Linked DNA regions of Homo sapiens: all the other regions are linked to region 4. The links come from fine-mapping of genetic effects on gene expression. A gene starts in region 4. Each other region holds a variant in brackets. All regions are shown on one strand. Distances are from middle to middle. Region 1 overlaps ELL (elongation factor for RNA polymerase II). Region 2 overlaps ELL (elongation factor for RNA polymerase II). Region 3 overlaps ELL (elongation factor for RNA polymerase II). Region 4 holds the start of ELL (elongation factor for RNA polymerase II).

Region 1 (4,000 bases), 77 kb before region 4:
GGTGGTGGGGCAACTTTGGCCTCAGACTCAAAGGCTCTTCCCCCACACCTTGGAAGTAGCGGGCAGGGAGGCTGCCCCGGGCCCACCCTCCTCCCTCCAGCTCCCATGGCTCACTTGGAGCCCACCCCAACACAAGAGACACTCACCTTTTTGATTTTTCGATATTCCTGCAAAATCTGCCCTCGAGTAGTCTAGAAGAAAAACAAAATTTTGAGAAAACAGAATGTGTCCCCGCCTACAGGAAACCCAAATTGAGTGGTCCCAGGTGCTCTGAGAAGGGGGCATGGGAGGGTGGGGCAGCCTCAAGGACAAGGCCAAGTAACACCCCAGGGGCCCACAGCGGCTGTAGCTCCGGAGTGGGTGGGGCATGAGGGAAAGGCTGCCGGGTCCCCTGGAGGCAATAGCAGGTGGGGCACTGCTGTTGTGGGGGCGTGGCAGGACAAGGAAGTATCCATGTCGTGGGGGGGTGGGGAGGGGGTGGGGGGGTGCAGCAAAGAGGGAGGGAAGGGGAAGGAGAGATGCCCCAAGAACCCGTGGCTCGCAGCCCCTAGAACCCCATCATGAGTCGTCGTCTTTGGAAGGCAAAGGGGCCTTGGCCAGGAGAGACCCCGGCATCTGATTAATCAGGGCCCAGCCCTGTAGTCAGGTCACCAGTTCCGAAAGGTGGCAGGTGGGGCGGCTACGTCCAAGGCTAGGCTAAGGGTGGAGACTCTCTGTATACACAGGGCAGCTGAATGAGCTGTGAGCTCAAGCCAGGGGACCACAGGAGTCCTGATTCCCAGGACCACAGGGACCTGTCACCTCCCCCTGCTATAGTTGTGGCAGCATGGATGGGCCCCAGGGTGCTGGACAGAGCTCAGCTGCGGAGTCTCCTGAGGGTTTGGCACAGGTACCAAGAGCCCTGTGTCCTAGGCTGTGAGAGGACCCCAGGCGCTCAAACATGTGGGGATCCATGTACCCCGGCTCGCCCCCATCCAAGGAGGTGGGTCACAGCTGTCCCCACTGCAAAGGAGGCTGACAAGCTGGGCTGCCTTCAAGGACTCCCACAACAGGACCCCAGGGCCGGGCCAGAACCATGGGGTTGCTGCATGGAGTGCACCAGGGGGAGAAGCGCTGCCTGGGGAAGGGCCAGACTCTGGGGCCACCAAGCTCGTGGTGGCGATGGTGCGCGCCCAAGTGGGCCCTGGCTCCCGCCAGAGCCAGGGCACAGTAGGCAGCGGGGGGGCTCTACCTCATACTCCTCGGAGCCCTGGGAGAGCTGCCGGAGCTGGGCGTCGAGCTGGGTGAACCGCCGCGTGATGCGCTCAATGCGGGCGTGCAGGTCGCGGTACTCGCTGTACTCGGCATTGAAGTCGTTCTTGTAGCTCTGGCGCTGCTCCGAAGAGGAGATGGCTGCGTACTTCCTGAAACAGGAGAGAGGGGCCACTGAGTGGAGGCTGGAAGGACCCAGCCCCACCCAGGAAGTGGCCATCCTGGCTCCACCGGCGGCCTGGCCTCTCGGGTGATTCCCTGGATTATGAGGGGGCCTGGCCCAGAAGAGGCTGCTATGTTTGGAATTCACATACTCAGACTTGCAGTGGCTTCTACCTCTGATAACCTGCAGTGCTGGGGGAGGGGGTCTGAACCCAGAAAAGGGAGGCCTGGCCTGCAGGGCCCAGACAAACACTCACAGCAAGTAGTCAGGCGTCTCCGACGTGGACGTGGGAACACTGGAAACGCTGCAGGTTCCGTTTAAACCTACGAGAGCAAACACATACCTCCTGAGTCTGCGCCCATGGCACCGGTCGGCAGGAAGCACGCCAGGATGGGGACATGCATGAAAACTGTACACTTTGCTGCTGGAGGGACATAGAGGGATAGCAGAGGGGATGACTGTGTGGCAGGTGCAAGGGCTGAGCCCCTCGCACCTGGCAACTGTGGGCTGCTGGACCTGGGCGTGCCCTCCAGGTGGTGAGCAGAGCTCAGCGTGCACCTGCGTGTC[C/T]AGGGCAAAGCCCTGCAGGACACAGAGCACCCAGGCATCACCACAGTCACATTCTTGGCAAACAGCGGACAGGTCAGGGAACTGCAGGGCCAAAGCCTGCACAACCGGTCAGAGCTTCCCCCAGGCCAGGCCCTTGCTGCCTCCACTGACTGCATGTCAAAGGTCACTAAGCTGAAAACAAATGACCCCTGGCTTGACCTGAGTCTCTGGGGCATCCCAGTCTCTGGCCAGACAGGACAAAGACAAGATGGCCAGCAGGGCCTGCATCTCTTGCTGCTGACAAAGTTCCACGCCCTTGGTCTGTGCCCCACCCAGATCATCCCGTCCTTTCCACTAGACACTGAATTGCACGCTCCACAAGGCAGCTCCAGGACAGGGCCAGCCAGAGGAGCCCATGGGCCACCCCAATCGGCCATCCATGAGCAAAGTGTCCATGATGACGCTCAGCCCTTCGCCCCTTCAGGGGCCTGCCCAAAGCAGCACAGCTGATGGCTAGATGGCACCCCAGGCAGCTGTCCTGCTCCTGAGCCATGTGGTGGGGTGCCCCGGCCACATAAGACAACACCCCTGAGGGTCTGGAAATCAGGGAGGGGAGGGGCAGGAAGACTGAAGTGCGCGTCGCCTAAGACCACAACTACAATTTAGTGCGTTTTCTAGACCTTCTTGCAGTGGCTTTCTTTCCGATACAGAAATGATTTTATCAATTTCAGATGTATCCTCAATACACTTTTTTTTTTTTTTTAGAGACAGGGTCTTGCTCTGCCACCCAGGCTGGAGTTGCAATGGTGCGATCATGGCTCACTACAACCTTGAACTCCTGGGCTCAAGTGATCCTCTTGCCTCAGCCTCCCAAGTAGGTGAGACTACAGGCATATGCCACCATGCCCAGCTAATTACAAAATTTTTTTGTAGAGATGGGGTCTCACTGTGTTGCCCAGGCTGGTCTGAAACTCCTGACCTCAAGCAATCCTCCTGAACTGGCCTTTCAAAGCGTTGGGATTAAAGGCATGAACCACCACACCTGGCGAATTTTTTTTTTTTTTTTTTACTTTTTAGTAGAGATGAGGAGGCTTGCCTATATCGCCTAGGCTGGTCTTGAACTCCTGGACTTAAGTGATCCTCTTGACTTGGCCTCTCAACATGCTGGGATTATAGGCGGAACCACTGTGCCTGGCCCTAGTGCACATTTTCAGGGGCCCTCTGCACTATCCCCTGAGAGAGCAGGAGTCTGCGATCTCCAGTTTGCTGAGCCCTCTCTCTCAGTGTAACACACCTGGGCTGACCACAGCAGCTTCTCTGCTGCCAAATTCCCAAAAGTGGACGAAGCTCACTCCCCACAAAGTTTCTAACACTCCCCACTTTGGGCCAGACACTGTCTTCCATATCACCACCACCCCCACCTGGGTTGTCTTTAAGAGGCTGTGGCCTTCCCAGGGACGCAACTCAATGGGCATGTATTGAATGGGTCTGACCCTGGTCCGGGCCAGAAGGAAGTGAGAGGCAAGGCGCAGCTGCGAAGGCCAAGCCCATGCTCCCGCCACGCAGTGGACTCCGTGGGTATTCTACAACAGATAACTGCCATGTGTCAGGCTGGTCAACATTACCTCATTTGACATGCCCCAAGATCTTCACCAGCTAGGATGACAAACGGGGAAATCAAGGCTCAGGGTCAGCTCAACCTGGTACCAGTGGGACCTTCAAAGTCCAGCCCTTGGCAAACCTCAGCGGCCCCCGACTCCTACTCAAGCTCTGGCTGTGTGGGGCCGGCCAAGCTGGTCCCTGCTTCGGGGCCCCGGAGAACACCCCCACAGCAGCTCCTCTCCCCATCTCTCCCCTTCACAGCCCACGTCTCTCTACTTGCTTGTCCTGGGCACGGGCACAGGACAGCTAAGACATGCCCTGCACAAGTACCACCTTCAGGACTCTGGTAACATGGACCACCAGCACCAGGCTCAGCTTCTGGTGCCTCCACTGTCCTTTTCTTGGTGCTTGGGACATCTACCCCTGCTTTGCATTTTC
Region 2 (4,000 bases), 45 kb before region 4:
GTCTAAATCATGGCCAGCCCTGTGCGGACCATCGGGCAGGGACCCACCTCATAAGAACGCCATGTGGTATCTATAAGCAGAACCCTACAGACACGTGAAGCAGCAGGAAAACGAGACTCCTAAGCCAGGGGGAAAATGAGTCGGCACAAAGACGTGGGAAGCACAGAGATGCCGACTGAACAGACAGGGGCTTTGGGACAGCTACTGTGAACTTGGAATGCTCCAAGCCTAAAGGAAAACAGCTGAAGAGGAAGACGTACGGGTATCGTGAGAGAGCCACGAGGGGCTTCTGGAGCTGAGACACGGAGGATCGGAATGAAACGGCCACTAGGTGGAAGTCACAGCAGGCACCACAGAAGAAAAGGGCAGCGAACTTGAAGACAAAGCCACAGGAGCCACCTAGATGAATCCCACAGTAAGAAGCCTACAGGAAACGAACACCACCTCGGTGACCTGCGGACGACAGCAGGGGATCCCACGTGCAAGTAACTGGAGTCCTGAGGGCAGGCGGGGGATCTGAGAAAAGAGTGGCCAGAGATTCCCAAATGTAACAAATGCTATAAATCCACAGACCCAAGAAGCCTTGTCAACCCCCAGCAGGAAAACTACCAGGTCGTGGCGCATCATGAGCAAATCAGCACAGCCACAACAGTCGCCCCAAGTGCCGAGGTGCCGACACTGCACATCAGGAGCCAGCCCCGACACTGGGAGGGCATCTTCAAAGTGCTGAGGGAGAAACACCGCCAGACCACAATTCCATGCCCAGTGAAAAGAGAAAGGGAAATAAAGATTCGCTCAAACAAATGCTGAGAGAATCTTCTGTCAGCATCTGGCCTGCACTGTGAGGAAGGTTCTAGAAGTTCTTCAGAAGGAGGGAGAGTGACCCTAAATGGACCTATGGATTTGCAGAGGATGACGCGGGCACAGTGAGCATGCATGAATAGAAAAGGCTTTTTTCTTATGATGTTTCTGCAAAAGATCATTCAAGGCATAAATTACGGTAGTGAGGCTGGGGTTTTGAATGTGGGGTGCTAAATAGATGGTGATGAGAACACAAGGACTGGGTGGGGGGGATGAGAAAAAACACAGAAAGCAGCTGGGGTGCAGTGCCCTGACAAGCCAATCAAGGGCCCAGGAGGTGAGTGTCGGCTGCAGACAGGCAGAGCCAGCTAGGTCCCTTCACGGTGGGACCAGCTGTCACCCTCTGTGCTCACCAGCCTGGCCTGGTGGGGACGCCTGACAGCATGTGGCCCACCACACCCTCTTCTGGCTGCTCCCTCCAGAGCCAACATGCGTGGTGTCATGGCCGAACCCTTGTCAGGGGGGCCAAGCGCCTCGTTACCTCATCTATGAAGCAGGACAGAGGGTCAGGAACAGACTGTAGCACAGGTGATTTCCCTGCTGCCTTAGAAGCTTTGGGGTTGGCCTCAGGCTGCATTAATTAAATAACGGGGTAACTCAGTAGCACATGACACCTGCAGGGTACTGCCCATCTCACACCCAAGAACACCCAGCAGGGGAGAGCCATGCCTCAGGCCACCGCCTGCCCAGTCTCTGTAGACCCTCTGAGGGGTCATCACCCCCACAAGTCCTCTCAGGCCCTCGAGTGGCAAAAATCCAACTTTCATTACCCAGCATGAGGTATGGAACTGGGAGCTCCTGAGATACAAAGTCACCCCCGCTGCTGTACTTCAGGCCAGGGCCCCAGGTGGGAGCTGGGGAGCCTGGTAGGGCCGCCACAGCTGGCCTGACACAGTCAGCAGGTCAGCTGGGTCTTCAAGGCCGGACAGGCAGGCACTGAGCTGTGCCGAGGCTGGTGCTCCCCAGACCCAACTGGACTTCAGACCCTGACTCGGAGAACAGACCTCAACACAGCAGGGCAGTGATGCCTGCGCCCTGCGGTCACTTGGCCTGGGCGCCCACTGGGGCTACTGAACACAGACTGGGAGACTCCTGTAGGCAGCTCCCCCTCAATGAGGACACTCCTGTAAAGACAGCAATGCCTTTGGGAAAAGGGTCGAGGGTGCAGAGCCTGGGAGGCAGTGAGAGTCCTCAATGCTGAGACAGAGGAAAGGGTGAGGAGGAACCTCTCCAGGGCCAGAATCCCCTGATCCTCTCCCCTCCGGCAAAGAGCACTTCCGGGGATGAAGCAACAGGAAGTGGCTTACGAAATCCACCTCCAGGCCGAGTGACCAGTTTACAGGAAGTGTGGTGGGTGAATCTTCCCCAGGGCA[C/T]GAGGCAATGTCTGGAGCCATTTCTGGTCCTCACCACTGAGGGCGGGGACAGTCCCCACCATCTGGCTCGGGGGAGGCCAGGGATGCTGCTCAGCACACTGCAGGCAACACAGAACCTCCTGCCCCAAATGTCAAGCAGTGCAGGGGCTGAGAAGCCCTGGGCTGACCCTGCCACGGGAAGCGACCATCAGAGCAGAAAGCAGAAAAATCTATGGGAAAAAAGACCTGCTCCCTTCAACAAATATAAAATATAAATGGAAAAGTTACGGGTGAAGAAGAACGTATCTGATTGTTGGCCAGGCATGGTACCTCACACCTGTAATCCCAGCATTTTGGGAGGCTGAGGCAGGTGGACTGCTTGAGGTCAGGAGTTCAAGACCAGCCTGACCAACATGGTGAAACTCCATCTCTACTAAAAATACAAAAATTAGCCAGGCATGGTGGCATACGCCTATAATCCTAGCTACTCGGGAGCCTGAGGCAGGAGAACTGCTTGAACCCGGTAGGCGGAGGTTGCAGTGAGCTGAGATCAAGCCACTGCACTCCAGCCTGCACGACAGAGTGAGACTCCATCTCAAAAAAAAAAAAAAAAAAAAATCTAGGATTGTTTTAAAAACTCTCCAGCAAAGACAGAAACTAGGGAGAGGGCACAGTGAAGAGATGAGACACACAGACAGATGGACGGGGCCCAATCTGGCCAGGTCCCAGGATACCTGCTACCAGCCTGGGGACAATGAGGCCCAAGGCAGCAGGTGCCAAGGCTGCCCCAAAGACACATGATCCTTCCCACCACCCTCCAGAAGCACCCACTCAGCAGAAGTGCCCACTCTCCCCAGGCAGCACGTTCTCCCTGCTGTCTACTGGGCAAGGCCTGCCACCCCACCCCTGATGCAGGAAATGACAGAAAGGAATGCATCTGTTCCTTCTTCAGAAGTCCATCTTGCTGACTCTCCCAAGCACCAGTGTCAGCACACACGTCCTGATCTTACAGAGCTGGGTCACCCTGCCAAGCCACGGCGTGTGGTCCAGCAGAGGGAAGGTGAAGTCCCGGGAAGAGCCCTGGACGGTGGCCTCCCCACAACAGGCCCCCCCTTTCCAGTAAAGCACAAATGATTGGGAAACGCTATTCAGGAATCCTCCTTGAGACTTCCTGGCAGGACTGGAGCAGGACATTGAGGCCACGGAGAGTTTAGACAGTGACTGAGTGGGGCTGTCTCCGTGAACTACAAAACAAAGGAAGATCTGCCCAGTGAGCTTGGTTGGCTCAGGGACGAGCTAGGGAACTTGGACAGACACATTGTGGACCTCACTGGTTCCAGCCTAGGGAACCAGGTGGCCACGGTCAGGGCAGAGCAGAGGGCAGGACCCACGGCAGCTCCTCTGCCAGCCTGGGAGGACAGATGGTGTGTTCAGCAGGCCAGGTGGGCCTGTAAGAGCAGGAAAGGGACTCCAACTGGCTACAAGCCAAGTGTAATTCAGTGGCCGGCATAGCAAGTATTTTTTTTCTTTCTTTCTTTTTGGAGATAAGCTCTCACTCTGTCACCCAGGCTGGAGTGCGGTGGTGTGAACACGGCTCACTGCAGCTTCGACCTTCTAGGCTCAGGTGATCCTCCTGCCTCAGCTCCCGAGTAGCTGGGACCACAGGCACACACCAACACACCTGGCTAATTTTTCTATTTTCTGTAGAGATAGGGTTTTGCCATGTTGCCCAGGCTGGACTTGAACTCCTAGGTTCAAGCAACTCGACAGACTCAGCCTCCCAAAGT
Region 3 (4,000 bases), 60 kb before region 4:
AGTGGGCTGTGTGTGTGTGTGTGTGTGTGTGTGTGTTTGGGCGGGGGGCGGGGGGGGAAGGATTGTTTTGTTTTTTGAGACAGGATCCTGCTCTGTCACCCAGGCTGGAGTGTAATACAATCATGGCTCATTGCAGCCCCAAACTTCTGGGCTCAAGCGATCCTCCCACCTCAGCCTCTGGAGTAGCTGGGACCACAGGTGTGCACCACCATGCCTGGCTAATTTATATTATTTGTAGAGATGGGGTCTCACTATGCTGCCCAGACTGGTCTCAAACTCATGGGCCCAAAGGACCCTCCCACCTCAGCTTTCCAAAGTGCTGGTATTATAAACCAGAGCCATCCTGCCCAACCTGAGGCAGGGGCTGTTTGTAAACCCTTCTGATGTTAAACTGGGGGTCCCTGAACTGCAAGAGGCAGTCACTCCCAAGCCTGCACTTCAGAGTCCTATGCTGGCCCCATGTGGCTGCCATTTTTGTTTTTCTAAAGTCAGTAAAGATGTCGGAGCCACTTTCAGCAGCTGCTCTGAAGACCCTGAGGTGCAAGTGGCACCCCAGCCTTAGGCCTGGTCAAGCTCTCCTCTGGCAGGCGTGGCTGTGCCCAGAGCCCTGGGGAGAGCAGGTTCCCCTCTATCCCCAACGCAGAGACGTGGGCAGGGTCCAGCACGCTGCTCCCCTGCTCTGTCCTGAACAATGATGCCCCGGCATCCTTGGGAACAGGGTCGGCCGAGCAAGCTCAACAGTGCCTCAAATCCTTCCCCCAAAAGCTCTTCGTAACAACATCACTCTGATCTTATCTCTCAAAATCTGATCTGTCAAATTAACCCAGAAAGCCTTGCTTTCAGAATACCCAGGGCCAGTGCTCACACCTCTGGGGTCTGTTCAGTGGGGTCCTGACAGCAGGGCTGGACTCACCCATATAGGGCCAGGCTGATTGACAGGGAGGAGGAGCAACCTGAGGGGGGCACTGTGAGACAGAGGAACACGCACATTCACATCTTTTTTTTTTTTTTTTTTTTTTTTTTTGAGACAGAGTCTCACTCTGTTGCGCAGGCTGGAGTGCAATGGCACAATCTCAGCTCACTGCAACCTCCGCCTTCCAGGTTCAAGAGATTCTCCTGCCTCAGCCTCCCGAGTAGCTGGGACTCCAGGCGCACGCCACCACAACTGGCTAATTTTTGTATTTTTAGTAGAGATGGGGTTTCACCATATTGGCCAGGCTGGTCTCGAACTCCTGACCTTGTGATCTCCCTGCCTTGGACTCTCAAAGTGCTGAGATTACAGGTGTGAGCCACTGCATCTGGCCACATTCACATCTTAACAGACAGCGTCCCCTACCAGAACATAAACTGTTTCAAAAACCCTCACTGGGCCAGGGGCGGTGGCTCACACCTGTAATCCCAGCACTTTGGGATGCTGAGGTGGGCGGATTACGAGGTCAGGAGATCGAGACCGTCCTGGCTAACACGGTGAAACCCCGTCTCTATTAAAAATACAAAAAAAAAGAAAATTAGCCGGGCGTGGTGGCAGGCACCTGTAGTCCCAGCTACTCGGGAGGCTGAGGCAGGAGAATGGCGTGAACCCGGGAGGCGGAGGTTGCAGTGAGCCGAGATCGCGCCACTGCACTCCAGCCTGGGCGACAGACCGCGACTCCATCTCAAAAAAAAAAAACCCTCACTGTACCCAAAGTGGTGTGCTAAGATACATTTCTGATCAAGTTTTTGGCTGAAGGACCCACAGATTTATTAACATGTATATGGGGCCAGGTGCGCTGACTCATGCCTGTAATCCCAGCATTGTGGGAGGCCCAGGCGAAAGGATCATTTGAGCCCAGGAGTCAGACACCAGCCTGTGCAACATAGCGAGGCTCTGTCTCTACAAAAAATCTAAAAGTTAGCCATGTGTGGTGGCACACACCTGTGGTCCCAGCTACTCTGGAGGCTGAGGTAGGATCACTTGAGCCTAGGAGTTTGAGGCTGCAGTGAGCTATGATTGTGCCACCGCACTCCAGCCTGAGTGACAGAGAAAGGTCCTGTCTTTAAAAAAAGAAAAAACA[A/G]AAAACAAAACACGCTGTCTCTTCAACTGTTCTCCCCACAGCAGCCCTGTGCTTGGGGCTTACAGCCCAGGGCCTCAACATCATGGACAACCCGGGCTCCCTGGCCATACAACATGTCCACCCGGACTCAGTGTTGACCAGGAAGACCAACCCCTGCACCCACATCTGGGGTTTCACTCAGAGGGAACCCCTCTGCTCAGCAAAGGGAAATCACGTGCTTTCTTCGGAAGGAGGAGAGAGAGGAATTGAAATGCCCCCGCCTTTTCTTAAAGATAAAACTCAAAAAGCCATCAAGGCTGTCGTCTGCTCTGAGCCATCTCCCTCCTCCCTGAAGCCCGGCACCCTACTCCTGCCGTAATGAGTTCCCATGACTCCTGGAGCTCTGCCTGGACTAAGAGGCGGGGTGCTGCAGCTCTGTAAACAAACAGCACTGTGCTTCCCACTGTCAAGGCCTGTTGGCTTCTCAACTGCTGAAACCGTTTCCAAGTTGATGCTGAGTGGCCAGAGCTTTCCTGCAGTGCTGGGTCGCTGGCAACAGGGCCTGTGAGGCTCATTTCCTGCCTGTTGCCGGCTGTGGTGGCGTTGGGCAGGAGCTGGCTGGTCAGGTGAGGGTGGGGGCAGCCTCCAGAGACAGACATGGGCCTTGCCCTAGGCTGCATGCCCATCTTCAGGGAGCCTGTTGATCTCCCTGACAGGTGAAGGTCCCCAAGGCTGCAGCCTGAAAGCAGGGACCACCAACTCACAGCTCCTGGAGTTCTCAGGCCCCTTTGTCCACCTCAGGCTTCACAAGCCAGCAGCTGCCATAACCCAACCCCCTATCCCTCACATAGCCCCCAGGCCCATGTGGCCATACCTCTCTTCCCAACCCAGACTCTGGTCCAGGCACGTCCTGCTCAGGGACCGACTCCTCGGTTGACCCATCATTTCTGTGCAGGGCACAGCCAGTGCCCAGCCTGGACAGGCCCCAAATGTCTCCCGACACTGGCAGCTGCCCGGCTGCCCTACAGCCCTGCCAAACCCACTGCTCACCCAGGTAGCGGCCTCCAGCCTTGATGACAATGGCACTTCGGCTCCGCGTCTCCTCCTCCGCCTGGGCCATGCTCTGCCGCGCCTTCTGGTAGGAGTCGTCGGTGGCACACACCGTGATCTTGTCCTGTATGCTGCCCAGGCAGTCCAGGTGAACTTCCCCATGACTGCAAGACAAGGCCAGGAGCTGGGGTCAGCAGCTGGGACAATGCAGGGAGGATCCGTTGAGGGCCCAAGCCCCCAGCCCACCACCTGGCCTGGAAAATGGACTCTGTCAACACCATCTCAGGCAATATGGTTTCAATGGGGCACATCTCAACCCTGGGCCAGAGGTGGCAGGGTGACCTCAAGAGCCGGCGGGGTGCTCTGGGGTGGGGCGGCGCCTCACCTGGAGACATACTGCTGGATGCAGTCGAAGCTGCCCTGGGGGTTGTCGCGGCCGATGTTGGAGAGGTAGAAGGAGAACGTCCGCGCCTCTGCGGGGCAGTCAGGCTGGGGGATGGAGATGTGCTGCGTGGAGGGGGAGGGGGTGTCACTGGGAGGTCCTCGGCAGGACAGGTCCCCAGCCTGCATCTTCCTGCATGAGTCCCCACAGTGCAACCCTCACAACAGGAATGTGCTGGCCCTTTTCCCTAAAACACACCCCTGCTCTTCAGCCAGTGACGGGACAGGCAGCCCATCCTCAGCAACACACACTGCGTAGAGAGGGGACTCAGGCACCTATGCGGGTGGGCATGGGGCCAGGGGCCGTTTTCAGCAGCAACAGCACTGCTGTCTGAGGACAGTGCTCAGCACCTGCCCAGATGCAGGGCCCCCACCCCAATCGTGTGACCCCTGGAAAGTGGTTTGTCTGGACCATGACTCACTTTCCCCACCACCAAATGGACAGACCTGGCCTGCGACACCCTATGAGGTAAAAT
Region 4 (7,250 bases):
GCTGTTTCTAGGAAAGCCTGCCTTCCTGCAGGACAAGTCAGAATCGCTCAGGGAAAAAGACCCAGGGCCAGAATTCTACCAGGAAGAGAGGCTCTGGCTGGTCATGGGCCAGCAGCTGCTGTCGCTGCCACTGTCTCCTCCTCACCTGCAGGGGCGCCTTAGCCTCATCTTGGGGAGTCTTTTTGACAAGGTGCGAACTTGCTCTTTCAAAAAAAAATGAAATCCTCATTCCATGAAGGGGAAAACTGCGACACCGGGACAGGGAGGAAATTGCCCAAAGACATGGGAAGAAGCACGGAAGGGGTGGGCACCGGGAGAGTGGTGGAAACGAAACAGGGGGAAGAAATTCTCGGCTTAGCTAATGGAGCTGAACAAGTTCGGGGCAGGAAGAAAGCCACATTCCTTCCTAGTTAGTCTCCCTCCTCCCCCGCCCGCGGCACCCCCCCACCCCCACCATCAACAGTATACACAAACACACACACACGCAGGGAGCAGGGCTCTCTGAGCCCGAGACTAGACCCACCCCCACTCCCTTTAGGGCAATGAAGCCCCCAATTTCCAGAAAAGGAGTTACAAGGTTCCTAAACCACTTCCCCTCGGGACCTGACCACTGGTCATCTGCAACTTCTGACCCAGCACAGACGGGGGGAGGGGGGGCCATGACACAAACAGAAATGAAAAAGGCAGGTTTCTGACCACGGCCCCAGATGCGCCCCAAAGTCAGGCCCAAGAGAACATACACAGCAGCCTCCCCTCCCCACCACCAGCCAGGTGGCAGAACCGAAACGCCTCAAACTTCCCCCAGATGGGCCCAAATCGGCCTCTGAGAAGTTCCAGAGTCAGCGGCCAGATGTGGTAGCCAGAGCTTCCTCCTGGGTGGCAGGGATCCCCTACATGTGCCCTGAGGATAACATCACAGCCGCCCCCAACACTTCCACTCTCCAAGGAACCTCTCTCCGGAGAGAGAGGGTCACCTGGGGGTAAGGGGAGCAGAAAGCTGGGACAAGCTGTCAGTTTCTGCCCAAACTCCCCGTCCCAAGAACCAAAGTGGCCCAACCTGAGTGGCTTCATCGGAACGCGTCAAAGCCAGCCCCCAGCTGCAAAGCCTTCCACCCAGACAGAACAGACCCCCACAAGTGCCTCGCTGACCACCCCCTGCCGGGCACCCAGACGATCGCTGCTTCCCAGGAGGACAGACACAGTCACCCCCACCAACGGCGCTGCCCCGGCCCCAGATGGAAAAGCCCCCAGCTTCCCCCTATCACGGTGCCGGGACCGTGCGGCCCACCGCCTCCTCGCCCCGCCGCCAGGTGCGCAAACTGGACCCTGCCCAGGTGCCCAGCAGGCCAGAAAGGCCCCGGACGCCGCCAGGTGCCGACACCGACGCCCCCCGGGCCCGGCGCGCGAGTCTGGGCCCCTCAGCAGCCCCGGGCCACCCGCCTGTATTGCCTCCTAGTGCTGAGAAGGAACGCGGTTCTCAGCGCTCCAGGCCGGACTGGCGCCCACTCCGCGCCCCGCCGGCCCAGGGACCCGCGAGCAGCACCACAGACCTAGCGTCTCCGAGCCCGGACGCCTCAGTGAGGGGAGCGCGAGGCCGGCCCGCGTCCGGACGTTCCCCACTGGCGCGCCGGGCGCCATGCCACTCACCTGTCTGGCGCGGTAGCTCTCGAAGGCCCTCAGGGCACTGTCGGTGAGCTTCACGTGGAACACCGACACCTTGCTGCCGTCGCTAACCCGCCCGCACGACAGCCCGTAGCTCCTATCCTCCTTCAGCGCCGCCATCTTGCGACCATCTCTCCCCCGCGCCCCCTTCCCGGCTCCAGCGCCGCCACGCCGGCCACGCCCCGCCCCGCCGCCCGCTGACGCGCTGCATTATTCATGAGACGCGGCTGGCCACGCCCCCCGAGTCCGACCAAACCAACAGTCGCCGCCACACCGGCAGGCAGCGCACTACATTATTCAGGAGACGCGCCTGGCCACGCCCCATGAGGGCCCCACAAGGCCCACAGTCAACGCCCCAAGTTGTTGCATATTCATAAGGCACTTATGGCCCCGCCTCTTCAGGCCCTAGGGGTGGCCACTTCCGTGAACGAACTCCGCCTCAACACGCGCACCCCTCCAGGCCCCGCCTCCATAGTATTATACATAACCCTGACTCAGCCAGCCAGGCGCGTCAAAGCCCCGCCCCTACAGCCGCTGACGTGATGCATTATTTATGAGATCTCTACAGTCTTCCGTCTTTGGCTTCTGTGGAAAGCCGCAGAGAGGGCGTGGAGGGGCGGAGCCGGCTCGAAACACGTGGGTGGGTAGGCCCCGCCGCGGGCCGGGAGGGTGGGCGTGGCTATGTAAACGGAGCGCGCGCGTTGGACGCTGGGTTGGACACATAAGGCATCCCTTAGGCGGGGTGGATGGGACTTCCACCCAGGGAAGGTGCTGGACCGGTAGGTGGAAGAGGAGCTGGTAAACTTTTTCTTATGAGATGAGTACTTTTAATAGGATAAAATCCTACATCCCCACAGTCCCTGAGCGATGGTGCAGTCCAGCTTCATTTTCCTATTTTAATTTTTTTTTGAGGGGTCTTGCTGTGTTGCCCAGGCTGGAGTGCAATGGCGCCATCATGGCTCACTGCACCCTCGACCTCCTGAACTCAAACTGATCCTCCTTGTCTGGGTCTGCTGAAATGCTAGGATTACAGGAGTGAGCCACCAAGCCCAGACTTCCATTTTCTTTTCTTTTCTTTTTTTTTTTTTTTGAGACGGAGTCTTGCTCATCAGCCCAGACTGGAGAACAGTGGCGCTATCTCGGCTCAATGCAACCATCGTCTCCTGAATTCAAGCGATTCTCCTGTCTCAGCCTCTCGAGTAGCTGGGATTACAGGCGCCCGCCATCATGCCCAGCTAATTTTTGTATTTTAGTAGAGATGGGGTTTCACCATGTTGACCAGGCTGGTCTTGAACTCCTGACCTCAGGTGATCCGCGCGCCTCGCCCTCCCAAAGTGCTAGGATTACAGGCGTGAGCCACCTCCCCCAGTTTTTGTTTGTTTGTTTGTTTTTAGACAGAGTTTCGATTTCCTTGCCCAGGCTGGAGTGCAGTGGTGTGATCTCGGCTCACTGCAACCACCGCCTCCTGGATTCAAGCAATTCTCCTGCCTCAGCCTCCCGAGTAGTAGCTGGGACTGCAGGCGCCCATCACAACGCCCAGCTAATTTTTTGTATTTTTAGTAGAGACGGGATTTCACCATGTTAGTCAGGCTGGTCTGGAACTCCTGACCTCAAGTGATGCACCCACCTCGGCCTCCCAAAGTGCTGGGATTACAAGCATGAGCCACTGTGCCCGGCCAGCCTTCCATTTTCTAAAAAGCAACTTCATTGAGTCACATTTTACATATAAAATATATTCCCAATGCTGTGTAGCTGTCACCACTATCTAATTTCCGAGATTTTTTTTTCTTTTTCTTTGAGACAGAGTTTCACTCTTGTTGCCCAACCTGGAGTGCAACGGTGCCATCTCAGCTCGTTGCAACCTCCGCCTCCCAGGTTCAAGCGATTCTCCTGCCTCAGCCTCCCGAGTAGCTGGGATTACAGATGCCCACCACCACGCCCAGCTAATTTTTGTATTTTCAGTAGAGACGGGGTTTCACCATATTGATCAGGTCTCTAACTCCCAACCTCAGGTGATCCGCCTGCCTAGGGCTACCAAAGTGCTGGGACTACAGGCGTGAGCCACTGCGCCTGGCCAAGGGAGGAGCTGGCTTGGAGGGCCAACCAGCTCGCTCTGTGATCTTGTGAAAGGCACCTCCTGCTTCTGAGCCTCTGTGGATTCACTTCGGAAACAGGAAACAGCAATAAGAGCAGTACTCAGGACCTAGCAAGGTGTCTCACACCTGAAATCCCAGCATTTTGGGATGCCATGACGGGAGGATCGCTTGCACCCAAGGGCTTGAGACCAGCCTGGGTAACAGGGCTAAGCCCCCTCTCTACAAAAAAATTTAAAAAATTAAAAAAATTAGCCGGGCATGGTGGAGCACCCCTGTGGTCCCAGCTACTCCGGAGGCTGACATGGGAGGCTCTCTCAAGCCCATGGGAGGTTGAGGCTGTAGTGAACTATGTTCGCACCACTATATTCCAGCACTCCAGCCTGAGTGACAGAGTAAGACCCTGTCTCCAAAAAAAAAAAAAAAAAAAAAAAAAAAAAGCCAGGCCCCCAGTGGCTCACGCCTGTAATCCCAGCACTTTTGAAGGCCGAGGGGGCTGGATCATGAGGTCAGGAGTTCGAGACCACCACGACCAACATGGTGAAACCCCGTCTCTGCTAAAAACACTAAAATTAGCCAGGCATGGTGGCACACGCCTGTAATCCCAGCTACTCAGAAGGCTGAGGCAGGAGAATAGCTTGGACCCAGGAAGCAGAGCTTGCAGTGAGCCGAGATCGTGCCACTGCACTCCAGCCTGGGTGACAGAGCAAGACTCGGTCCCAAAAAAAAAAAGTATTTCTCCACGTCTACTTTACATTTGATTCCCCAGTGGATCTCAATGAGACCCCAGGAAAAATAAGGCAGAACTTATCAGACGTTGGCATGCTCTGCAGAAGTTTCTTTTTTTTTTTTTTTTTTGAGACGGAGTCTCACTCTGTCGCCCAGGCTGGAGTGCAGTGGCACAATCTCGGGTTCACTGCAGCCTCCGCCTCCTGGGTCCAAGCGATTCTCCTGCCTCAGCCGCCCGAGTAGCTCGGGTTACAGGCACGTGCCACCACGCCTGGCTAATTTTTTGTATATTTAGTAGACGGGGTTTCACCGTGTTAGCCAGGATGGTCTCGATCTCCTGACCTCATGATCCGATGATCCGCCTGCCTCAGCCTCCCAAAGTGCTGGGATTACAGGCGTGAGCCACCATGCCTGGCCTTTTTTTTTTTTTTTTTTTTTGGAGACAAGTTCTCACTCTGTCACCCAGGCTGGAGTGCAGTGGCATGATCTCGGCTCACTGCAGCCTCCAACTCCTGGGCTCAACCCATCCTCCCACCTCAGCCTCCCAAGTAGCTGAAATTACAGGCATGCTCCACCATACTGGGCCAATCTTTTGTATTTTTTGAAGAGATGAGATTTTTCCATGTTGCCCAGGCTGGTCTCTAACTCCTGGGTTCAAAAGATCCTGTCGCCTAGCCTCCCAAAGTGCTAGGAAGTGCTAGGATTATAGGCCATAAGCCACTGCACCTGGCCGTCTGCAGACATTTTTGTTTCTTTGTTTTGAGACGGAGTTTTGCTCTTGTTGCCCAGGCTGGAGTGCAGTGGCACGATCTCGGCTCACTGCAACCTCTGCCTCCTGGTTCAAGTGATTCTCCTGCCTCAGCCTCCTGAGTAGCTGGGATTACAGGCACACGCCACCACACCCAGCTAATTTTGTATTTTTAGTAGAGACGGGATTTCACCATGTAGGTCTCGAACTCCTGACCTCAAGTGATCCACCCGCCTCGGCCTCCCAAAGTGGTGGGATTACAGGCGTGAGCCACCGTGTCCGGCTTTGTCTGCAGAAATTTTTAAGAACTAGGTTACCCATGGCCAGGCATGGTGGCTCACGCCTGTAATCTCAGCACTTTGGGAGGCCGAGGCGGGTGGATCACTTGAGGTCAGGAGATCGAAACCATCCTGGCTAACACAGTGAAACCCCGTCTCTACTAAAAATACAAAAAAATTAGCCAGGCATTGTGGCAGGCGCCTGTAGGCCCAGCTACTCCGGAGGCTGAGGCAGGAGAATGGCGTGAACCTGGGAGGCGGAGTTTGCAGTGAGCCGAGATCGCGCCACTGCACTCCAGCCTGGGTGACACAGCGAGACTCCATCTCAAAAAAAAAAAAAAAGGAACTAGGTCACCCACAATATTGCAAGTGAGTTGATCACCCTGGGGTGCCCCCCGGACACATAGTCCACCTGGTGAGCTCTCTGATGGAAGCAGTGACCCCACCCTGCCCCTTACCCCGTGTGTGGTCTTGGACACATCTTGCCATCTCTGTTCCTCAGTTTGCTCATCCAGAAAACAGGGAGTGTAACAGCATCTACCTGATTCTTCTGTGACAATGACATGAGACAAGGACATGTGTAGCTCGCCCTGTTCAAGTGTTCCAGAATTGTGAGCTCGCGTACACATACAAAATTCCTTCCGCAGTGCTCACTTCCAATTCACAGCCCATGGCAAGTCGGGTAAGGCCCTCCTGAGTCACTGCTCAAGGCCAGGTATATGGGAGGTGTTAGTAAATGCTTTGGTATGAAAGACAAAGCCATCCCCGTCGTTCTCCAAAGGTACCACACATGGTCCAGCTGGCATACCTTGCACAGCTATGCCATCCACAAGGGATACCCTTCACCACCCATTAAAGGCATCCCATGCCTTCAACACAACTGCAGCGTCACACGTGCTGGATGCTCCAGCTCACCACCCACAACCAGCTCAGACCTTTGAGGATGAAGTGGCCGAGTGAATAACCACATTCAATTTCACACTCCTAGTCTGGCCATTCGGGGCCTCTCTCCTCCCCGTCCCCGCACCATGTCATAACTTGCATGTTCTAGGCAGCTCCGGGCCTATTTCTTTTTTCTTTTTTTGAGATGGAGTCTTGCTCTGTCACCCAGGTTGGAGTGCAGTGGCGCGATCTCAGCTCACTGCAAGCTCCACCTCCTGGGTTCACGCCATTCTCCTGCCTCAGCTTCCCATGTAGCTAGGACTACAGGCGTGTGCCACCACGCCCGGCTAATTTTTTTGTATTTTTAGTAGAGACACCACGTTGGCCAGAATGGTCTCAATCTCCTGACCTCGTGATCTGCCCGCCTTGGCCTCCCAAAGTGCTGGGATTACAGGCTTGAGCCACCGCGCCTGGCCAGCGGGGCTATTTCAACTCCAGACATTGGCACCGGCAGTTTGCTTGGCCAGGAAGGACATTTCCTTCCTTTAATAAAGCTTTTTTAAAAGTTTATCAAACAAGCAGCCAGGAGTAGTGGCTCATACCTATAATCCCAGCACTTAGGGAGGCAGAGGTGGGGGAATGACTTGAAGTCAGGAGTTCAAGACCAGCCTGGTCAGCATGGTGAAACCCTGTCTCTAATAAAAATACAAAAATTAGCCGGGTGTGGTGGCACGTGCCTGCAGTCCCAGCTACTCCGGAGGCTGAGGTAGGAGAATTACTTGAACCCAGGAGGCAGAGGTTGCAGTGAGCCGAGATCGCCCCACTGCACTGCAGCCTGGGCGACAGAGTGAGGCTCCG

Evidence for each region. PIP is the estimated chance that this variant, and not a neighbour inherited with it, causes the effect.
Region 1: its variant is fine-mapped to the expression of ELL in whole blood (TOPMed, PIP above 0.99).
Region 2: its variant is fine-mapped to the expression of ELL in whole blood (INTERVAL, PIP 0.99).
Region 3: its variant is fine-mapped to the expression of ELL in whole blood (INTERVAL, PIP 0.97).

The regions. Positions count from the first base shown.
Region 1 is chr19:18,445,078-18,449,077 of GRCh38, forward strand. It overlaps ELL (elongation factor for RNA polymerase II), which reads right to left. Exons shown (of 12, transcript NM_006532.4): 9 at 1,671-1,737; 10 at 1,232-1,403; 11 at 147-191. Among named protein-coding and RNA genes, the nearest start is that of ISYNA1, 8.9 kb to the left of the region's middle. RefSeq lists an enhancer at 1,244-1,772. The variant C/T (reference allele first, on the strand shown) is at 1,982.
Region 2 is chr19:18,476,899-18,480,898 of GRCh38, forward strand. All of the region lies in intron 1 of ELL (elongation factor for RNA polymerase II), which reads right to left. Among named protein-coding and RNA genes, the nearest start is that of ISYNA1, 41 kb to the left of the region's middle. RefSeq lists enhancers at 1-400, 1,656-2,558, 1,972-2,041. The variant C/T (reference allele first, on the strand shown) is at 2,235.
Region 3 is chr19:18,462,329-18,466,328 of GRCh38, forward strand. ELL (elongation factor for RNA polymerase II) reads right to left here. Exons shown (of 12, transcript NM_006532.4): 3 at 3,469-3,590; 4 at 3,084-3,247. Among named protein-coding and RNA genes, the nearest start is that of ISYNA1, 26 kb to the left of the region's middle. The variant A/G (reference allele first, on the strand shown) is at 2,055.
Region 4 is chr19:18,520,274-18,527,523 of GRCh38, forward strand. It overlaps ELL (elongation factor for RNA polymerase II), which reads right to left and starts at 1,797. Exons shown (of 12, transcript NM_006532.4): 1 at 1,648-1,797. The coding sequence starts at 1,782. RefSeq lists silencers at 481-530, 1,261-1,570 and enhancers at 786-1,301, 1,302-1,817, 1,961-2,290.